Linked DNA regions of Homo sapiens. The protein of the gene in region 3 purifies or fractionates together with the protein of the main gene of each other region. This does not show direct contact. Each region holds a gene or a part of one and is shown on either strand. Other genes may lie near its edges.

What was found.
Region 1: the proteins of PLAAT1 (region 3) and ALKBH7 purify together in Homo sapiens (affinity purification with mass spectrometry; one large-scale study listed by BioGRID and IntAct). This does not show direct contact.
Region 2: the proteins of PLAAT1 (region 3) and C19orf38 purify together in Homo sapiens (affinity purification with mass spectrometry; one large-scale study listed by BioGRID and IntAct). This does not show direct contact.

The regions. Positions count from the first base shown.
Region 1 is NC_000019.10:6,371,173-6,375,593, reverse strand, and holds ALKBH7 (alpha-ketoglutarate-dependent dioxygenase alkB homolog 7, mitochondrial precursor), read right to left. Parts: upstream 2,801-4,421; 5' UTR 2,774-2,800; coding exon 2,570-2,773; intron 1,790-2,569; exon of another isoform or gene 1,703-1,789; coding exon of another isoform or gene 1,577-1,702; intron 1,392-1,576; coding exon 1,218-1,391; intron 1,130-1,217; coding exon 1,005-1,129; intron 784-1,004; coding exon 621-783; 3' UTR 344-620; downstream 1-343. Other genes in the region: PSPN (persephin preproprotein), read left to right, coding at 1-300.
Region 2 is NC_000019.10:10,858,338-10,861,985, reverse strand, and holds part of C19orf38 (protein HIDE1 precursor), read right to left. Parts: coding exon 3,643-3,648; intron 2,072-3,642; coding exon 2,028-2,071; intron 1-2,027.
Region 3 is NC_000003.12:193,268,279-193,271,493, reverse strand, and holds the end of PLAAT1 (phospholipase A and acyltransferase 1), read right to left. Parts: intron 891-3,215; coding exon 789-890; 3' UTR 639-788; downstream 1-638. UniProt on the Homo sapiens protein: Exhibits both phospholipase A1/2 and acyltransferase activities. Shows phospholipase A1 (PLA1) and A2 (PLA2) activity, catalyzing the calcium-independent release of fatty acids from the sn-1 or sn-2 position of glycerophospholipids.

The DNA.
Region 1 (4,421 bases), on a different chromosome or scaffold from region 3:
CTGCGCCGAGCCCTGTCTGGTCCATGCCAGCTGTGGAGCCTGACCCTGTCCGTGGCAGAGCTAGGCCTGGGCTACGCCTCAGAGGAGAAGGTCATCTTCCGCTACTGCGCCGGCAGCTGCCCCCGTGGTGCCCGCACCCAGCATGGCCTGGCGCTGGCCCGGCTGCAGGGCCAGGGCCGAGCCCACGGCGGGCCCTGCTGCCGGCCCACTCGCTACACCGACGTGGCCTTCCTCGATGACCGCCACCGCTGGCAGCGGCTGCCCCAGCTCTCGGCGGCTGCCTGCGGCTGTGGTGGCTGAGGGTGCCCGGCCTGGCACCCAGAAGCTGCAGTGCTGGGGGAGCTCGGCTGACTTATTTATTGGAGACCTGGATGCAGAGACAACGAGGAGGGGAGTGGGCTGGGGCGACCAGCAGTGAGTGCAATAAAGGACACCACTCTCCCGGCCTTGTGACTTTGACCATGTGTCCAGCCAGCCACACCTGGAGCTCCCTATGGGCCAGTGCCATCCTGGGTTCCCCTGCAAATCCCGGCCCCAGCAAGCAGCCACTGCAATGTCCCAGTTAGGCTGTCCATTCCCCAACTTTATTCACAAATCTGGTGTCTGTAGAAAGCTGGGGGTCAGCAGGCTGGGGGCGGCTGTCCAGACTCCCCTGGCCCCATGCCCTCAGGGAGGGAGCGGCAGATCACGGAGATGCGCCGGCCCCGGGGAATCCGGCGTTCCCCAAAGAAGGACTCTTCATCCCGAAGGATCTCATGGGAGAAGTCATAACGGGCTGAGCCCCTGCAGGAAGAAACAGGCTGTGACTGGGTGCAAGGAGGGCAGCCCCTGCTCCAGGCAGACCTGGATTCCAGCCTCCTGGATTCCAGCCCCCTGCTGCCTCCCACACAGACCCTGGGGTAAAGGCGTCTTCGGGGAGGGCTGGATTGAGGGAAAGTACCCAGGGCACAGGGTGGGCGGATGGCACATTCTTGGAGGGGTGGGTGCTGCCTGGATGGAGGTACCTAAGGATGTAGAGGGAGCCCGGCTCCAGCAAGAGTTCCAGCCACTCCCCCGGCTCCTGGGTGTGCACCAGCCGCATAACGCTGGGAGACAGGAGAGACAGGCCGGCGATGGTGGCCCCGCAGAACTGCAAAAGAGGCGTGGGGATGGGTCAGGATCTAACCGGGCCTGCCTACCCCCTGGCTGGGAGTGCCAAGGCACCGTCCTCTGCCCACCTTGATGCTGTCCACGTGGGGCTTGATGTAGCCGCGGGCTTCCAGGTCCAGCACGTGCACGGAGGAGAGCAGGGTCTGGCCGGGGCCAAAGGCGGCCGCCTGCACGCGCTGCAGGATGGCCCGGCTGGCTTCTGACCAGCGCGACTTCTCTGTCTCTCGGAAGCCGTGGATGGCCTGCACAGAGAGCTCGGTTAAGCCTGGGAGCTCCCAGAGGGAACAAGGAAACTGAGGCAAGGAGGGGCAGAAAACGGCAAGGGGCTGGTTTCCCTATGTGACTCTTGACCCTGCCCTCAACTCAAACTCCCCTAGCCCCTCAACTATGGCCCTACCTAGGTGTGACCTCAGTCCTTAGTACTCACCCTGAGGCTACAATTCCAGGTCCCCAATGCTGGCCCGGCCCCAGCATTCAATTGGCTGAATCTCCCTACAACTTGACCCCACCCAAGTGTCCTGTCTCTGTCTCTCAACATCATCTGGCTCCACATCCGTTTCCGCCCCTAACCTTGGTCCCAGGTCGCAAAAGTGCTCTCCCTGACCCCAAGGTCCTCATCCCCCAGGTCCCGCCCCTCCCACAGCCAGAGTTTCAGCCCAGCCCCCACCATAGCCCAGCTCCCAAATCCCTGCAATAGCTACCGACCCCAAAAAGGCCCTGCCCCATCCCAGCATGTGTCTCCCCTATCTCCGCCCCCAGCGTGGTTCTGCCCTCTCTAAACCTCGACTTCCCCGTCCCCCCCACAGCATGGCCCCAACCCATCCCGGCGCTTGACTCCACGGACCCCGCCCCAAGCTTGGCCCCGCCCCATCCATGCGCTCGACGACCTGACCACGCCCCAATCCCAGCCGCCACGTTCTTCTGCACTGTAACTGCTAGCAGCGTAATCGCACCCCAACCCTACACCCGACTCCCTGGCCCCACCCCCACGCTCGACTGCGCTGTAACCGCCCCCAAGCGTGGCCACGCCCCATCCCAGCACTGGTCCCCACTGTCCCCGCCCCCAGCGTGGCCACGCCCCGTCCCTACGCTCGCCTCCTGTCCCGCCCCCAGAGTGCCCCCGCCCCATCCCTGCGCTGTCTCCTTTGTCCCCGCCCCAGCGTGGCCCCGCCCCATCCCTGCGCCCGACCCCCCTGGCCCCACAACCCCAGCACCGTAGCCCCGCCCCCACGCTAAACGGTACTGTAACCGCCCCCAGTGTGGCCCTGCCCGGTCCCGGCGCTCGTCTCCTCTGTCCCCGCTCCAAATCCCCGCTCTAGGTACCGCCCCCAGCGTGTCCCCGCCCCATCTGATGCTCCACGTCCCCAGGCCGCGCCCCCGACGAGCCCCCGTCCCTCGCCCCCGGCGCTGCCGGTCTCACCGCGTCCCAGTGATCGTATTCGTAGCGGCGGCGGCGCAGCTCGGGCTCCAGTTCTCGGCTCAGCGTCTCCTCCTCTGCCGTGCTCAGGAAGCCAGGCCGCACCACGGCCGCGTCCTGCAGGCGGCTCAGCACGGAAGGGCCCGAGCCTCGCACCCAGCTGGGCCCTGGCAGCGTCCGCAGCGCCAGCAGCCCAGTCCCGGCCATAATCCCGGAGCGGGGTCATGAGAGAGGGCAGGGTTGGGGAACGCCCCCGCCAAAAGCCATTGGCGGTACCTGCGGCAGCGATTGACTTCCCTCAGAGTCCCGCCTCTCGCTCATAGCTATTGGTTGCTGCTAGACTCGCCTTCACAGGCTATTGGCCTTTTTCCAGAACCCGCCTCCTCTCTTGAGCTTATTGGGCGCCACCTCCCGCCTGACTTACACCAGTGGCTGAGTCGCAAGTCCGTCTGCAGCTTAGCACCGCCTCTTTAATCATTAGAAAACGTACACCCTAGGGGTTGCCTGGCCAAGACTTCATAAGGGGATATGGGCAGTATCTGGTCTGAAGTCCGGAAGTCAGGGGGACTGGGGCCAAGGCCACGGTTATGGAGTCGACTAGGGCTAGAGGTTAAGGGCAGAGTACAGTCAGGCCGAGATAAGGGTCCGGGGTCAGGGGACTGACGTCAAGGCCACGATTATGTGTGTGGTGGGGCCAGCTATCCAGAGTTAGGGCTTATGGTCAAAGGTCAGAGCGAGGTATCATTCATTTCCCCGTCTCCGTATCACTATTACTTTAGGTTTGAAAATGGCATTATGGTTGTCTTTTTGATTCCTCGGCCGGGCGTGGTGGCTCACGCCTGTAATCCCAGCACTTCGGGAGGCCGAGGCGGGTGGATCACCTGAGGTCAGGAGTTCGAGACCAGCCTGGCCAGCATGGTGAAAACCCGTCTCTACTGAAAATACAAAAAATGAGCCGAGCTTGGTGGCGCGCGTGCCTGTAATCCCAGCGACTCAGGAGGCTGAGGCAGGAGAATTGCTTGAACCCAGGAGGCGGAGGTTGCAGTGAACAGAGATCCCGCCACTGCACTCCAGCCTGGGCGACACAGCAAAACATTGTCTCAAAAAAAAAAAAAAGAGTCATCGTTTTTTACAAACGCAAACTGAAAAAAAAATATTTACAGAAAAAAGATCTCTGGGATTTGCTTCCACATAAATCCAGGCTGTGGGGGCAGGGAGGGGGCGGGTAGGGAAGAATCATCTTTGACCGTGAATTAATTGTTGAATTGGTGTGATAAGTACGTGGGGTCTCATTACCCTGTTTTCTCTACTTTTGTTTATATTTATTTTTATTTGTTTATTTTTGAGACAGAGTCTCACTCTGTCGCCCAACCTGGAGCGCAGTGGCACGATCTCAGGCCCTGAAGATTTGCAACCGCTGCCTCTGGGGTTTAAGTGATTCTCATGCCTCAGCCTCCCGAGTAGCTGGGATTACAGGCAACGAACCATCATGCCCAGCTTTTTTGTTTTGTTTGTTTTTGAGACCGAATTTCGCTCTTGTCACTCAGGCTGGAGTGCAATGGTGCGGTCTTGGCTCACTGCAACCTCTGCCTTCCGGGTTCAAGCGATTCTCCTGCCTCAGCCTCCCGAGTAGCTGGGATTACGGGAAGCTGCCACCACGCCCAACTAATTTTTGTTTTTTATTTTTTTGGTTTTTGGGTTTTTTTTTTTTTGACACACAGTCTCGCTCTGTCACCCAGGCTGAAGTGCAGTGGCGGGATCTTGGCTCACTGCAAGCTCTGCCTCCCGGGTTCACACCATTCTCCTGCCTCAGCCTCCCGAGTAGCTGGGACTACAGGCGCCTGCCACCACGCCC
Region 2 (3,648 bases), on a different chromosome or scaffold from region 3:
CAGAGCTTGCAGTGAGCCCAGATCGCGTCACCGCACTCCAGCCTGGGCGACAGAGTGAGACTCCGCCTCAAAACAAAAACAAACAAAAAACAACAACAACAAAAGGGCGGTGGCTCACGCCTGTAATTGCCTGTAATCTCAGCACTTTGGGAGGCTGAGGTGGGTGGATCACCTGAGGTCATGAGTTCGAGACCAGCCAGGCCAACATGGTGAAACCCTACCTCTACTAAAAATACAAAAATTAGCCGGGCATGGTGGCACGTGCCTGTAATCCCAGCTACTCGGGAGGCTGGGGCAGGAGAATCACTTGAACCCGGGAGGCAGAGGTTGCAGTAAGCTGAGATCGTGCCACTGCACTCCAACCTGGGCGACACAATGAGACTCCATCTCAAAAAAAAAAAGAAAAACATCACTTCCTCAGGGGACCACCTGCCTTGTCCCAGACACAGTCTGGTGCCATCACGGGCTGTTTCCCATTGGAGAATGGGCTTGTGGACAGACAGCACATCTGTCTTGGTTACGAAAGGACCCTCTCAGATCTTAGCACATAGTAAGTGCTCAATAAGTGTGTGTGTTGGACCAGGAATGAAGTACAGAGAATACATTTCTCTGCTTGGGGTGCCTTCAAGAGAATATCCTGCATGACAGACTGGCTGCCTTTCGCCCCCTTGGGGAAGCTGGCAGAATGGCATGTTCTGGAAGGCAAGTGTGGCCCTGGAGTCCCGGAGATAGACATGGTCCTTTCCCCATGGAGCTGGCCGTTCAGCAGAGGAAATGAGTATGAAATATGCAAGCACCCAATGATCACTTAATTGTTTCATTTTTGTTTCTTTCTTCCTTTTTTGAGATGGAGTCTCACTCTGTCACCAGGCTGGAGTGCAGTGGCGCAATCTTGGCTCACTGCAACCTCTGCCTCCTGGGTTCAAGTGATTCTCCTGTCTCAGCCTCCCAAGTAGCTGGGACTACAGGAACACGCCACCATGCCCAGCTAATTTTTGTATTTTCAGTAGAGACAGGGTTTCACCATGTTGGCCAGGATGGTCTCGATCTCCTGACCTCGTGATCCACCTGCCTTGGCCTCCCAAAGTGCTGGGATTACAGGCGTGAGCCACCGTGCCTGGCCCTTTCTTTTTTTTTTTTTTTTTGAGATGGAGTCTCGCTCTGTCGCCCAGGCTGGAGTACAGTGGCGCGATCTGGGCTCACTGCAAGCTCTGCCTCCTGGGTTCACGCCATTCTCCTGCCTCAGCCTCCTGAGCAGCTGGGACTACAGGCACCCGCCACCACGCCCACCTAATTTTTTGTATTTTTAGTAGAGATGGGGTTTCACTGTTTTAGCCAGGATGGTCTCGATCTCCTGACCTCGTGATCCGCCCACCTCGGCCTCCCAAAGTGCTGGGATTACAGGCGTGAGCCACCACGCCTGGCCTTTTTTTTTTTTTTTTTTTTTTTTTGAGATGGAGTCTGGCTCTGTTGCCCAGGCTAGAGTGCAGTGGCGCAATCTCAGCTGACTGCAACCTCCGCCTCCCAGGTTCACATGATTCTCCTTGCCTCAGCCTCCCAAGTAGCTGGGATTACAGGTGTCCGCCACCACACCCTGCTAATTTTTTTGTATTTTTAGTAGAGACGGGGTTTCACTATGTTGGCCAGGCTGATCTCGAATTCCTGACCTCGTGATCTGCCTGCCTCAGCCTCCTAAAGTGCTGGGATGACAGTTGTGAGTCACCGCGCCTGGCCGCCTAATTGTATTTCTACCGAGGGGTAAGAAGAATGGTCGGACCTGGGGTCCTGTAAGTAGCAGGCACAGACCCTGTCTAGGGAGTCAGGGAAGGCTTCCCAGAGGAGGTGACCTTTAGGTTAAGTCAAAGGAGAGAAGGTGAGAACCCAGGGGAAGAGGTGGCGAGGGTGTGTTTTGACCCTAAAGGGAACAAGCAGTCACAGAAGAAATTTGATTGGTGTGTGATGAGGCCTGATGGCATTTGGAGGTGTAATCCTTTCCCCACTGGAGTCAGGAGTGTGGAGGCACAGACCTGTGCTGTCGAAGTTAATCTGGGCCCAGCAGGATTCTCGATCTCTGCAAAGGAATTCAGGAGAAAGTGACAGGGATCAGGGTTGCCCCTTGAGTCAGGAGGCTTGATCGGGAAAGCCCTGGCCCCAAACCACACCCAAAATGTAGCCTTTGCTCCCCACCCACTGACCCATGGGTCTTCCCCACAGAAGAGCAGTAACATCCTGATTTCTGGAGCTGTCACACTGTGGGACAGCCCCTTGGCCGGGGGAAGAAAAAAACATGGAAATTCTCTTGGGCCAGGCGCAGTGGCTCACGCCTGTAATCCCAGCACTTTGGGAGGCTGAGGCAGGTGGATCACTTGAGGTCAGGAGTTCAAGACCAGACTGGACAACACAGTGAAACCCCGTCTCTACTAAAAAATACAAAAATTAGCCAGGTGTGGTGGCATGTGCCTGTAGTCCCAGCTACTCAGGAGTCTGAGGCAGGAGAATCGCTTGAACCCAGGAGGCGGAGGTTGCAGTGAGCCGAGATTGCGCCACTGTACTCCAGCCTGGGCGACAGAGTGAGACTCCGTCTAAAAAAAAAAAAAAAAATATATATATATATATATATATATATATATATATATACACACACACACACACACATACATACACACACACACATACATACACACACACACATATACACACACACATACACACACACACACACACACACACACACACACACATATATAAAAGCCAGGCACGGTGGCTGATGCCTGTAATCCCAGCACTTTGGGAGGCACAGGCGGGCGGATCACCTGAGGTTGGGAGTTCAAGACCACCCGGACCAACATGGAGAAATCCCGTCTCTACTAAAAATACAAAATTAGCCGGGTGTGGTGGCACATGCCTGTAATCCCAGCTGCTCAGGAGGCTGAGGCAGGAGAACTGCTTGAACGCAGGAGGCAGAGGTTGCGGTGAGCCAGAGATCAGGCCATTGCACTCCAGCCTGGGCAACAAGAGTGAAACTCCATCTCAAAAAAAAAAAAAAAAACATATATATATTCTCCTGGTTAGGAGGCCCACAGCCAGGTGAAGCTGGGATTCAATCCCCAGAGCAGGTTTTCATCTCCAGGCAGCAGGATGTCTCCCCACTCTCGGAGGAGAGAAACTGAGGCCAGGGCCAGTTAGGACATCCTGGTGCCCAGGAACCTGGGCCATCACCTACAGTGCAATTGGGCACTGCACAACCCCAGGGGCATTCTTTAGAAACTGACTGTGGGTGTCTAGAGTGATTGTGACCGTTTTCTGGCAGCTGGAGGTAAAGGGGTGTGGGGAAGGGCCTCTCCCTGGGCAAACTGCTCACTCTGTGACTGAGTGCTGAGCCTCAGTCCTCTCTTCTGTAAAATAGGGCTATTCATGGTGCCTGTTTCCAGGGCTGCCATAAGGATAAGGAGCTCCAGCTTCAGAGAGTCCCAGCTCAGTCCTCCAGCACACAGGAGGCACTTAATAAATGGCTCCTGTTCCTATTACGCAGCATGCCCACCAGGAGGCGCTGTTTGTGGGGGGCATGGAGTGCCCACCCTGCCAGGGAAGTGTCCTTCTTTCCCCAAACCACCCTCTGTGGGTCTCCAGGGATGATCTCACCTTTTC
Region 3 (3,215 bases):
TGGCTTGTAAAAAAGTCTTAAAAATATGAGATATTGTTTTCCAAATATGGCATTTTAAACAAACATTTAATGATTGCTTCTCAAGGTTAAAAGGTCAAATCCCTGAAACACTTCAAAATCCAAAGGGAATAATATGTAACACTGTAGAAATAACAGCCCACTCTTACTTGTCATGTCCTCCTGACAAGCAAGTAGATTCCACACAAATCACCGGAACTGAAACCCTGGAGCAAACAGCCTCTCCTCTTCCCATCCACCCTCATCTACACAGGCAGGAAGAAGATGAGGGTGCATTCCCCAAAAGGCTTGTAAATTAGAGTCCCTCAAACTGCCTAACCAAAATGCTAAATTTCCCAGTTTCTTTTCCAACAAGAAAAGAAACATGAATTTGGATGTCAACTCTTAACAATCTGGGGTTCTTAAAATTTCTTTCAAAACCATATATAAATAGTCTTTCATGCCTCTGGCAAAATGGCCACCCTTGGGGAAAAGGAAAATAATATTTATAGTAGAAATAAAATGTGATGAGATTTTGTTAAGATCTTCTGCTGGCTCACTCAAAAGACTACTGCTTCTCCGTTCAAGCTGCCACAGTACATCTATGCTAGCAGGGGAAAAAAATTTCATTGGCTCAATGATAAGATAATATCAGTAAGCAATTTATTAAAGAGTCTGCCATCCATCATAGGAATCTGGAACAGTAATGATGCACTGAAAATAAGTATTCACCCCAGGTTTCTTTTCCTCCTCCCAAATTCCTTCAATATCAATATCTCTTTGGTAAATTGTTAATAGTATTTTGCTCTTTGTCCTTTTGGAAACAAGCCCAGGAATGAGAAGACACCAACAGCAGCTGTCACAAACTCAACGGTACTTATCGCTCGGTTGGCCTATAAGGAAACAAGAAGTAAACAAAAAACACATCATATTCTAAAGACATCTGTGTCCTAAATGAAGCTTTAGCCTGTTTCCTAAACTGAACACCTGTTTTAATGTACAATGGATACATCTAAAGTACAATGCAAAATTAAAATTCTGCATAAAGATGAAGAAATAAATTTATAATTTGTATAATTATGTCAAAGATGTAGATACGTACACATGGGTATATATTCCTCATATTTTTAAAGCACTCTGACAGTTTATAAACTAATTATGAACACAGTTCCCATTCATCATAATAGTACACTGGTGAAAGAGGTTAATATACCACTCTTGTTTTGCAAAACTTGGGATATCATAAGTAGTTTGCCTGAGATCATTCCACGAAGATGTTTAAAGATAGGCTGAGTCTTCTGAAACACACGTTCTTCTCCTATGCAGCTCCTGCCCCTTAAATAAACACTTTGGATTGGTTGGGTCTACACCAAAGTAAGTATCGTGTAAGAGTGTGTGTGTGTGTGTGTGTGTGTGTGTGTGTGTGTTTCAGGGATGTCAAATAGCAAATAATTCAGGGATGTCATCTGAGCTAAATACACATAAGCTCTTATTTGGTAGACACAATTTCTTTTCTGATAAACAAATTTCAAAAAAAGCCAATACTGATGTTAACTATCATGTCAAAAATTAATTTCTCATGTAGACAAACCACTCTCAAGATCAACTGTCCATAAAGGAATTCAGACATTTATAGCTTTAAGGGTATTAATCATCATGATGATGAGAGAACTAATGAATATTCATGGTATTCTTGGCACTCAACTAATATTGCCTTCCATTCAAATGGGTTTGAGTGCAATTTGATGACCCAAAGGTCACATTCGGACACTTCAGAATTATCAAGTACTCTGAAAACATATTTGTTCTCTCTGGGATTGAAGAATCAGGTCTTTCAAATAAAGCAAAATATTTTTCCCAAATGACTCTGGGGAACCAGTCTAAGAGCTGGAAAGCCTAACCCAGGTCATATTTGAGCATGCCCTCTGTCTAACCACAGCCTTCCACCGTGGAACCTGCCACCCACGTATTACTGCAACACAATGCTACCTCCCTAACTGCAGCTTCCCTGTTAGGAACAGGCACAAGGGCCAGGGCCAGGAAAGAGGGACACAACAGAAGTCTTGGCTCCATGTGTTTGCAGCATGTGTTCATTCCACTACACCATCCTGTGGTGGGCAGAGACTAGGCCTGTAATTGTGGCCCACTGTCTCTGCTCCAACCCCCAGATGCCAGGGAGAATGGTAAGGGCAAACAACTTGGCACTAACCCTGAAAAATCCTGTTTTACTTTATAATTTTGATTTTATTTGATTTCTTATCTATTTTATTTATATTTTAATCCTTACCTAAACTATTTCCTAAGAGATAATCAGAATTCACTGTAGCACAGAGCCACCCATATGCCATATTGGGGGAGCGGGGGAGAAGAGGCAGGGAGATGCAGGATATAAGATAAAATCCCAAAGAAGAGGAAGAGTCACTAATTAGACAGGGATCAAGCCCAACCCTAGTACAATTCCAGCAGATAGTGAGATCCCAAGAAGGTCTAATAGAGAGAAATGGGGTAGTCAATAAAAAAAAAATGAAGGTGCAATCAGTGTCTTTAAACAGAGGTGTCAAATGGTAGCAGGGTACGGCCCTTGGAAAATGGCAGGATCCTATAGATGGTGTGGCCCCAGCTAGATGCAGACCTAACTGACTAGGTATCTTTCAGCCACTAGAAACACAAGATGTTAATGAAAGCTGACAAATTTAAGAGGCCTGGTTGGGGGATGGGCAACCTGATCCCAAACCAAAATCCCTAGAGATGACAAAGGCCAGATATCATGATCATAAAGCCACTTTAAGCAGTGCCACTTTAAGACAGCTTCCCCAATTCCAAATGTTCATTTATTTCAAGTCTCATTCTAGATAATGAATCTCATGTAATTGGGACAACCCACTGGAGTTAGGAGTAATGGGATGTGATGTGCAAGATTACAACATCTCAGGATGTTCTTGGTGAACCAACATGAACAAGAACTTTTACTTCACGGCTTACTTTGGATTATAAGGTCACCAAATCCAACTCTGCATTCTTTATCCTTTAGAGGGCTTTCTGTCCATGGGCCATAATAAAGGCCTCGTTCTGGGGATCTGTACCTGGCCTAATGAAACATTAGCTGAACCTGGAGTGGCTGTGTCTAGACAGCAGTATAGCGGGGACACAGACGTGTGGCAGGTTTATCAAAACGCTCTTTCCTAAGGCCTCGTAAGGCTGCAGTCATATGCACCGAA